Regions from separate parts of the Homo sapiens genome. Here region 2 is linked to region 1. Evidence: fine-mapped expression QTL. Tissue or cell type: whole blood. Region 1 holds a variant in brackets; the other region holds the start of a gene. All regions are shown on one strand. Distances are from middle to middle. Region 1 has its middle 28 kb from the start of AMPH. Region 2 holds the start of AMPH (amphiphysin).

Region 1 (5,375 bases):
ATTTACATTCAAGATTAATATTGATATGTGAGGTTTTGATCTTGTTATGAAGTTGTTAACTGGTGGCCTTGTAGTTTCTATAGTGTGGTGCTTTATAGGGTCTGTGGGCTATGTGTGTTTTTGTGGTAGTAGGTATCATTATTTTGTTCTCATGTTGAGAAATTCCTGAAGGATCTCTTGTAAGGAAGGTCTACTGGTAATGAATTCCGTTAGTACTTGCTTGTCTGGAAAATATTTTATTTCTCCTTTGCTTATAGAGCTTAGTTTGGCAGGATATGAAATTCTTGGTTGGAATTTCTTTTCTTTAAGAATACTGAAAATAGGCCTCCAATCTCTCCTGGCTTGTAAGGTTTCTTCTGAGAAGTCTACTGTTAGCCTGATGGGGTTCTTTTTGTATGTGATCTGACCTTTTTCTTTTGCTGCCTTTAAGATTTTTTTCTTTAGCATTGACTTTGGGCAGTCTGGTGACTATATGCATTGATGATGTTTAGTTTGTACACTATCTCACATGTGTTCTCTAGATTTCTTGTATCTGGATGTCTATCTCTCTAGCAAGATTAGGAACTTTTCTTGAATTATTGCCTCAAATGTTTTCATGGTTGTTTTCTTCTCTTCTGTATCTATTGTTAATGTCCAGTAATTCATAATTTTGGTCACTTCACATAATCCAATATTTCTTGAAAACTGTGTTCATTTTAAAAAATTCTCTTCTCTTTATTTTTATCTAACTGGGTAGTTCAAAAAATCAGTCTTCAAGCTTTGAAATTCTTTCTTCTGCTTGGTGCAGTCTGTTCATAAAGATTTCAATTGTAGTTTGAAATTCCTTAGGTGAGTTTTTCAATTCCAGAAGTTCTGGTTGATTTCTTTTGAAGATGTTTACCTCTTCCTTCCTTTCCTGGATTGCTTTAGAAATGTCTTTTTGTTGACTTTCAACCTTGTCTTGGATCTCATTGCTGCTTACTTGCAATCCATGCCTTGAATTATTTATCTATCTAGCTATCATTTCTGAGTTTCCATTTTAGTTAGGGACTATTGCTGGGGAGCTAGTGTGATCCTTTGGTACTGTCACTACATTCAGATTTTGCCAGGTTTCTTGCACTAGTTCCTTTTCATCTAGAGATGCTTGCCCTTCTAATTTTAGTAACTATTTTCATGCAGGTAGAATTTTTTCTTTTTCTTTCCTTTTTTCCAATAATATTATTGTTTTTTTCTTCTTTCCCTTTCCTTCCTTCCCACCCCAGGGTGTGTGACTGTAGAGAATGCTGGGTAGGGTCTTTTGGCTTTGCTTGCGTAGCCCTATGCTCTTCTGTCACCAGGTTTTATATTGGGCTGTGCAATTTGACCTACAAGCCAATAGATGGCGCTTATGGGTAAGAGCTGGCTGTGTGGCCCGGCATGGTGGCTCGTATCTGTAATCTCAGCATTTTGGGAGCCAGAGGAAGTAGGATCCCTTCAGTCCAGGAGTTCAAGAACAGCCTGGGCAACATAGCGAGACCCTGTCTCTACAAAAAATGAAAAAAATTGCTGGTCATGGTGGCATGTGCCTGTGGGTCCCAGCTACTTGGGACAGTGAGGTGGGATGATTGCTTGAGCCCGGGAGGTCAAGGCTGCAGTAAGCCATGATCACACCACTACACTCAGGGTGACAGAGTGAAAACCTGTCTCAAAAAAAATGCTATGTGGATGGGAATATATGTGATCCCATCCACATAGCATTTTTTTTTTTTTTACTGGAAGAAGCTCTCGCTTGCCTCAGGAAATGGGTTGATTCATGGAGTGCACGGTGGTCTGAGCTCCCTCTTCAGCCCCAGTGGAGGGGAGGAAGCAAGATGGGCAGGGCCAGACCAGGCAGGTCCACCTGTAGGTCCCCTGATGGCAGGCACAAGTACCAGCACTGAGGGAGAATCCAGTGGATGGCCACCTCGCATCCAGAGGTGTGCCTCGGCATGGAGCTGCAAGACCTCCTCATCCCTGAGTTCTCTGCCTGGAGATTGGGGTCAGCCTAAACTTCTAACCCAGGAGGGTAGGTGCTTCAGACGCATGGAGATTCTGCCTGGGTGTAGAGTGGGGAGGGCCTCCTGCACCAGGATCTCCGCACAGGAAGATTGGGGTGACTCAGACTGCTGTTCCAGTGAGCAGGTGTCTGAATGCCTGGAGATCTGTCTGGCATGGAGTGGAGAGGGCCCCTCTGCACCCAGATCGCTGCACGGGAAGGGTGGGGCGGCTCAGGTTGCCAATCCAGGCAAACAGCTACTCAAATCACTTTTTATCCCACCACTGCATATCTCTTTTCTCCTTCACAACCAGATTTCTTGAAAGAGATGCCTAAAATTTTTGTCTCCACTTTCTTAACTCCCAATCTTTCCTCAACCTATTTAAGGCTGAATGTCATGGCCCATCACTCTCCCATTCCCACAATCACTGCCCTGAACCAGCTCTGATAAAGTCAACAGTGATCTCCCTGTCCTCAAATACATCCAATGATGTTCAGACCTTATTTTACTACATGATTCAGCAATGTTCTTAAATACTATTAACAACTTCCACCTTCTTGCAGCTCTTCCTCCCCTTGCCTTGGGTGCTACCACATTCTCCTGGTGTCCTTTCTACCTCTCTGATGCTCCTTCTTAACCTAGTTGGTGGGCTTATCTGCTACTCAGCCATTAAAAGTGAAGTCTGTCAAGGTGGTCTTTTTTCATTATATGCTTTCTTTCCAGGCAACTGTATCCAAGATCATTAATTTTAACTGCTATCTGTAAGCTATTTATATCTAGTTATGTCTTTGGCTCAGACATTTCCTTTGAGTTCCAGATGTATATATCCAACCACCTATTTCATATTTTCCCTTGATATGTCTCAAAGGTATTTCAGACACCTCATGTCCCAGACTGAACTGAGGCTCTTCCCCCACAAATCCTGTCTTCTGCCAGTGGTTCCTGT[C/T]TCATGAATGACTCACGCATCTTTTACTGGCCATCTTCTTTCCCACCATAGGGCCTTTGTGCTTCCTGATCTAGCTTCATGATATGTTCTTTCTTCTCTTACCTTGGGTAACTTCACAATTCTTTATTTGTCATATGTCTCTTCCGCAGAGAAATTTTCCATGACCCACAAGCCCAGGTCAGCTTTTTGTATTACATTCCTTTTTACCTGGAACACTGAACTCAGTTGGAAGGTTTGCTTGTATTAATTAGCATGATTATTGAGTAAACCTCTGGGACTCCCACTGTTTGGTCTGTCTTAGCTGCCTCCCCAACAGAACCACCCCTGTTATTGTTCCAGTATGTTGCCAGTGCCCAGTCTAGTGCCTGACATACATGGAGCAGATGCTCAATAATAGCTGTTTAAATTACATATGTGCAAGCATAAATGGTTATAAACATGGTTAGCATAGAGTGTGATACAACTTACTCCCTATGTAAAATTTAAACAATTTGGGTGCTTTTTCTATTTTGGGATGTGGATGATTTTATTATGTGCTGCTTTTATTTGGTGTATGGTTAATATCAGGGGAGAGGTAGATTTCAGTGGCATATTGGATACTCTAATGCACCTGGAATTATTATAACACTTAAAGGCAGATAAGATCCCAGGGGCCCAACAGGAAGAAGGTAAGGAAAACTACTCCTGAAAAGTAACATCAAAAGCCCCCCATTGCCTTCCTCTTTTGCAAAACAGCCTATCTGGCTAAAAGCTAAAAGTTTATAATGGGATGTGGATTATTATGGTAATATGAAGTCAAGGAGGTGATTTGAGAAGAAGACATAATGTAGACAGAGGCTTAGTCTATATAGACTTTGGGCAAAAGTCTCTTTCTTCGAGATAGGCTTTACATGTTGCAATGCCCGCTCTCCTGAATATGAAGAACCTTATGAGGACCATGAAACTGTTTTAAGGTTCTACAGGCAGATTTATCTTTTGTTTTTGTACATTCCCATATAATTTAGAAATTTGTTCTAATAGGGCTGGTGCAGTGGCTCACACCTGAAATCCCAACACTTTGGGAGGCTGATATGGGATGATCTCTTGAAGCCAGGAGTTCAAGACCAGCCTGGGCAACATAGCAAGATTCCATCTCTACAAAAAAAATTAATACATTAGCCCCATGTAGTGGCATGCACCTGTAGTCTCAGCTACTCAGTGGGGCTGAGGTGGGAGGATCACTAGAGCCCAGGAGTTGCAGGTGACAGTGAGCTATGATTGTGCTACCACCCTCCAGCCTGGATGACAGAGTGAGATCCTGACTTTAAAAAAAAGAAAAAGAAGATGTTCTAATAGGATTTAGAAAATAAGAGTCCTGGGGGCTGGGCGCACTGTCTCACGCCTGTAATTCCAGTACTTTGGGAGCAGAAGGTGGGCAGATCATGAGGTCAGGAGATTGAGACCATCCTGGCCAACATGGTGAAACCCCATCTCTACTAAAATACAAAAAATTAGCTGGATGTGGTGGCACATGCCTGTAGTCCCAGCTACTCGGGAGGCTGAGGCAGGGGAATTGCTTGAACCCAGGAGGCGGAGGTTGCAGTGAGCCGAGATCCCGCCACTGCACTCCAGCCTGGCAACAGAGCAAGACTCCATCTCAAAAAATAAATAAATAAATAAATAAGAGTCATGGCAAAGGTAACCGAGGGGCACTGAAACCATCCAAGAAGGATGATGGCAAACATTTATATAGCAGTGATTATAGTCCGGGAACTGTTCCAAGGGTTTAACATATATTAGCTATTTTGATCCTCAACACAACCTTATAAAAGAAGTATTATTTTTATTCTTATTTTGGAGATGAGGAAACAAGAGCAGAAAGGAGCTGAGTAACTTATGCAAGATGATTACTGTTGTGCCATGGTTATGAACTTTCTCAACAGGAAATGAGTTTAGACATGAAAAAAAAGGCAGACTACTGTGTTCCATAAAATGAACAAATAAGAGCAGGCGAAAGGAAACCTGCTGACAGCCCCAGAATTAAGATAGACTCTTAATGGGGTGGTTGTTGACTTAGAACTGGGGAGGGGCACAGTTCTTGCTTTGCAAATTTGCCTCCTCTGAAGGTTTTCTTACTCCTTGTGTGAGTATTTTCATCTGTCTATATATGTCCTAACATTCTGCAGATTCTTCTCAACACATTGAAAATATGAAGAAAATCCTCATTGGCCTGCAGAATGAGACTGATGGGACCTTGTGGGACTGATTTTTTTTTTTTGAAAGAGCTAGCTGAGGTTTTATTTTGTACAAAAAAAAAAAAAAAAAAAAGCAGTTGAATTGTTTTGTAGCTGGAGGCATGGGCAAAGGGTGTCCCCAGGCAGTAAACTCCCCCGTGGGTGGGCTGAGAGCTAGGGGTGAGCCTCAGGTGGGTCTCCTGTTCCCTTTGCTCCCCTGCA
Region 2 (5,375 bases), 27 kb after region 1:
GTTTCTAAAGATACATTGGGGAAGAATTCATGAATCCTAGCTCAGGGTTCTTAAGGAGTGGGTACGTCCCCACTCTAGCATGCCAGGCATCATCGTATCTTGCATGATGGATGCTCATGAGCTATTCTCATGCATACATGCATTTTCCAACAAATATTTACAGAACAGCTACTAAATACCAGCTAAAGTGCTTAGTCAATATTCCAGAATGGCTAGAATGAGCCACCTGGCAACCTGAAAGTGGACACCGATTTACCTTTCTGTTGGAGTGAAATGTTTTGATAACAGTTTGCATGTAACAACTTTTTAATATGCTCAGCATGTATTCCAAATAGAATTATTAAGAAATGACAAGCCTCCCTTTTCCACCTATGTTACAGAACTAGATTTGGGCATCTGAATAATAAGAAAAATTAATAATTTGCAATTTTATTTTAAAATATATTTATTGAGTTCCAAAAATGTGGTTGGGTGGGGTGGGAATAATTACGGGACAGACAAAAGCTGGTACTTTGGTGACTGAGGGCTTGAGCTCTAAGGAAGCAGAAAAAAGTAAATCTGGTACTCGGAACTCCTGTCCCTTGCCTGACAGAGGGAGGGCAGTGATGTCTGCAGAGGGAGCTGTATCTAAAACCAGTGTAGGTGGCTCTGGGGCTCACAGTGCAAGAGTGACTATGGATTGATATTCTCTAGAACACTTCTGGTGTATTCCAGCATTCTGAGACTTGTATCCTCATAGTCAAGATCCCAAGGTAGAGCTGAGATTCTGAACCCTGTATCAGTCAGGGTTCTCTAGAAGGACAGAACTGATGGAACACATATATATATGTGTGTTTTTAAGTATTAACTCACACGATTACAAGGTCCCACGATAGGCTGTCTGCAGGCTGAGAAGCAAGGAGAGCCAGTCCGAGTTCCAAAACTCCAAAACAAGAAATTCAAGTCTGATGTTCGAGGGCAGGAAGCATCTAGCACGGGAGAAAAATGTAGGCTGGGAGGCCAGGCCAGTCTCTCTTTTCACATTTTTCTGCCTGCTTATATTCTAGGCACGCTGGCAGCTGATTAGATGGTGCCCACCCAGATTAAGGGTGGGTCTGCCTTTCTAAGCCCACTGACTCAAATGTTAATCTCCTTCGGCAACACCCTCATAGACATACCCAGGATCAATACTTTGTATCCTTCAATTCAATCAAGTTGACACTCAGTATAACCATTACAGCCCCAAAGGCCCCTGTTTGAGGGAGGTGACTCAAATTCCTGGTTTCTGAGCATAGCCTTTTTCATTGAATGTTGACCAAGTGGTGGATTTTTTTTTATCTCTCTGAAATAAACCTCTGTTTACTTGGAGTGTTATAAGTAGGACTCATCCAAATTTGCTCAGAACTTTCCCACTGTTAGCACTAAGAGTCCTGTGTCCTGGAAATTCCTTAATTCCTAAGGAAACTGGGGCAGATATTTATCCTAGGGAAATAAGAGCCAAGCACATAGACCAGGTGTTCCAGGTACCTACTGTTTTATAATAAAGCATTATAAAAGTGATCGACTCATAAAAACTGTTTTGTTTGCTCACATTCTGCACTCTGGCTGGGATTAGCTGAGTGGTTCTTCTGCTGGTCTTGCTGATGGTTGCTTGTGTGGCTGCAGCCAGCCAGTGAACTGATTGGAGAATGGGCTCAGCTGGGACATCTTGGCTGCTCTCTCTCTCTCTCTCTCTCTCTGCGTAATCTCAGGGCCTCTCCCTTTCTGTATGGCCTCTCCTTGTTATTTTATTTTATTTTATTTTTGCAGCAGGGTAGCTGAATTAGCTGAATTTCCTATATGGTGTCACAGGAATCCCCAGAGGGCAAAACTTGCCTGGTTTCTAGGTTGGGTGGGTGGGGGGGGGACTGGAATTACCATGGCGTCACTTTCACCACATCTTATTGATTAAAGCTGGCCATAGCATCATTCTAGAATCAAGGTGAGGGGACTACAGGGTGACACAAGAGTGAACACCAGGTGGCAGCTCGCTGAGGTCTACCAATGTAACAGTTTCCCCCAGAGGTACAGTAGGATGCTCACCTGGACTCATAGGATTCACTGTGAGTGACCACTTCTGACCTCTGTTTGCAGGGCACCACCTGACTTCTTCTCCTCACACTCTCAGTGAGAATGGAATATGAATAGTTTGACCACTGGTCAGAGCCAACAAGAGCTCTAGGTGTAGGGCAGGTTTATCCCTATTATTCGTACTTCTCCCAAGCATTAATAAGAATAATAGGGATGGTGAGTCCCTGTTAAGGTTGCCAAAAGGTTTCCAAGGAAGCAACAAGTTAGGGGGGACTGGGTCTTCCATGGTTGATGCGAAGCTATAAGGGACTTGACTGTTCCATGCACCATTTCTTGAAGAGTAGTCTATTCTAAGGTTTCTGCCCAGCACAGGAATTTTGGAGATGACCAAAACACATCGCCTGTCTTCCGGAAGCTGACCTTTCTCAACGCGGACCTCCCCGCCCTGCTAACTCTTGTTTTAAAGTTTAAACAAGTGTCAGCGATGGTCTCTCCCCGCTTTGCTCTCCACACGCCTCTCTCCTGCAGCTCTGACTTCGTTGGTTTCCCAGCCAGGGCCCCTCACTGGGCTGTGAGCCTCCTGAGGGTAGGGCGACCTCCATACCTTCTTCTGCAACACCCAGGGTGTATGGAGGGGCCTCTGTTAGCTGGAAACTTTTGGGAGCAGCAAGGGACCAGCCCCATCAGCTCCACTTCAGAGCAGTTCCAATCCAGCTGGCTTCCACATCCCTAGGGTTCTTCCCTTTTTTGTCTCCCCTATTTCTTTTTTTGCTGGAAAGAATCAGGTCCCCTCACTCTCCCCAAATACAAACTGCATTAAAAGAACCCCCGAGCTGCCCCTGGGCCCAGGGACTTCTGCTAGGCTTGGTTCCCTTTCTCCTCTCGAAACTCTTCTATCATCGAGGAGACAATCTGGCTTCTGGCTTTTCCCTCTCTTTTTCTTGGCCTCTTTCTCTTTCTTCCCCCGCCCCTTCTCCCCATGTCACAGCCAGTCCCGACGCATCCCGCCCCCGCTCTGTCGCTTTAAGCTGGTCCCGCCGCCGCGCCCCGCCCTCACCCCTCCGCGCTCCGCGGCTCCCCGCCGCTTCTCCCGCTCCTCCCTTGCTCGGCCCTCTCCTCCTCCTCCCGCTCCTCCTCCCGCTCCTCCGCGCCGCCGCCAGCCCCGCTGCGCGCTCTGCTCTTCGCAGCTCCCCGGACCCGCAGCCATGGCCGACATCAAGACGGGCATCTTCGCCAAGAACGTCCAGAAGCGACTCAACCGCGCGCAGGAAAAGGTCAGCGGCGGGCGGCCGGGGCTGGGGCCGGGGACGCCAGGCGGGGGCTTGGCCGGAGGGCACCGGCTGCAGCTGTGCGGGGCCCGAGCCTCGGGGTGCGGCGCGCTGCGGAGCGGGGCCGGGGCCAGGGACGCTGGGACGCCCTGCCCTCAGCTCGGTGACTGCCGCAAGGCGCGACCCGGGCGCCGCGGGGAGCGGGTCGGGAGGACGCAGCGCCGGGGACCCGCAGACCCTGGCCCCGGAGACGCCGGATATGTCCAGCTCCGGAGCCGGCCCCGGGTTGCCGCTCTCCTGGCCCCAAGCCAGGCAACAGAAGTAGGAGGTGCGGCAGCTTGCCCGCTGCGCCCGGAGCAGAGCGCATCTCCCTGCGCTCGCATCTCCCCGGGCCGGCTCCCAGCGCGCCCGCAGGCAGCTCGCGGGGACGCGGCCCGCAGATCGGGGCGGGAGATTGCAGCAGCCTTCCTTCTTGCGGGGGATTTTGTGGCTACTTAAGTGCAGCAGACACGAACGATTTAACAGAGAAGCCACCAAAAATCTCCCAGGACCAATAGGGTAGGATCGTGATCACACAGTGCTGTCTGGTGAGTTCTGGAGTTCAAAACAGAGATCTAGATATACACACTTTTAATTTTGGTCTATATGTTTGTGTCCCTTTTGACTCCAGTGTCCTTCTTTAGAAGGTCAAAAATAAATATGACCTGAACCTAATAGTTCCTTTCTGCATATTTCTGCACAAAGAAGGACCTTTTATTGCATTTTAAAAAATCCAGATTGCACAAATTGGGTTCTCTGTTGTTTTGCAAGTCCCTCAGTAAATTGCGCACAGTAATTTATTTTTTTTCCCCAGAGACGTGCATGAATGAAACCCAGGTCCGTAGCAAGCACAGCCCAAAGCAGGTGGAGGGGAGTTGTACCAGGCACCAGGCTTGCCTGGCTTCCCTGGTGACTGCTGTATATGACGGCCCTGAGGTCTTCATTTGTGTCCTGAGCAAAGGACATTTCCTTTATATTGTAGCTTGAGCATTGTACTTGAAAATCAACACCGGCTAATGAGCCCCATGATTGGTATCACTTGAACTGTGTTCTCTTTCACGTGGCAGTATTTTCCGTCCCTAGGATATGGGGTGTTTAGCGTTTTCCTGTTTTACTGGAAGTCAGATTTGCCATGTTGCTCAGGATGGCAATGAATTTCCCTCTTCAGACCCAATCTCAATCTCAGGCTGCCTCCCAGTTCCGGCTGACCATGAGTTGCTGAGCAGAGGGGGCACTGATCCCTTTTGTCCCCAGGCCCAGAGGCTTGGTGGCTGCCTCTAGTCCCTCCCTCCACACATGCACACTCTCCATGCAGTAAGAGGATTGTATTTCTTTTAATATCTACCCAAGCTCATCCTGAACTAAAGTGATCCTCCTCCTGCCTCTCCCTCCGCAGCTGAATTAGCAAGGCTGCCTGCTGCCTTCCAGGCCCGGGTTACTTGTGCAGAAAGTAGCCAGGGATCTGCTGGCTTGGGATCTGGGCCAGGTTTTGTCATCCTTTTTCCACACTTCATTTTACCCACTTGTAGGTACTCCTCCTCCTGCCTTCCAAGTAATTACTTGACTCTTCGGTCTGAGGCTTTTCACTGAATCCACTTTCCATCTGTGAAGGAATTTAGTGATATGGTCTGCCTTTTCACATATTGAATTATTTCTTAATCTAGGTCACCAGCTGTTAATATGCTCAAAATAAATGAAAAGAAAACCTAATCTCTTACGGAGCATTCAAGTCCTGTGAATTGTCAAAACTCACTTTTTCACGATCAAGGTCAAGTGTACTTTATGACTGCAGTTGTGGATGGTGGTCAGTCTTCTATGGGAGCGGGGGTGAGAGACCCTCTTGGGGGTTTCAAGCGTCCTATTTTCTTCACTGGGGAAAGGTGCTGATGAAAAGTGCCTGCCGCACCTAGTATAGAGGTTCAAACACTAAGAGGCTGAGAGTATAGGCTCTTCCCCAGGGTGAGTTCTGCCCCCCTTTCTGAGTCTGTGTAGCATCAGGATATGCTTGGCACAAAGAGA

Evidence for each region.
Region 2: it holds the start of AMPH, and the variant in region 1 is fine-mapped to the expression of AMPH in whole blood (TOPMed, PIP above 0.99).

Annotation. Positions count from the first base shown.
Region 1 is chr7:38,656,683-38,662,057 of GRCh38, reverse strand. It overlaps the pseudogene KRT8P20. Among named protein-coding and RNA genes, the nearest start is that of AMPH, 28 kb to the right of the region's middle. The variant C/T (reference allele first, on the strand shown) is at 2,941.
Region 2 is chr7:38,629,231-38,634,605 of GRCh38, reverse strand. It overlaps AMPH (amphiphysin), which reads left to right and starts at 3,233. Exons shown (of 21, transcript NM_001635.4): 1 at 3,233-3,323. The coding sequence starts at 3,255.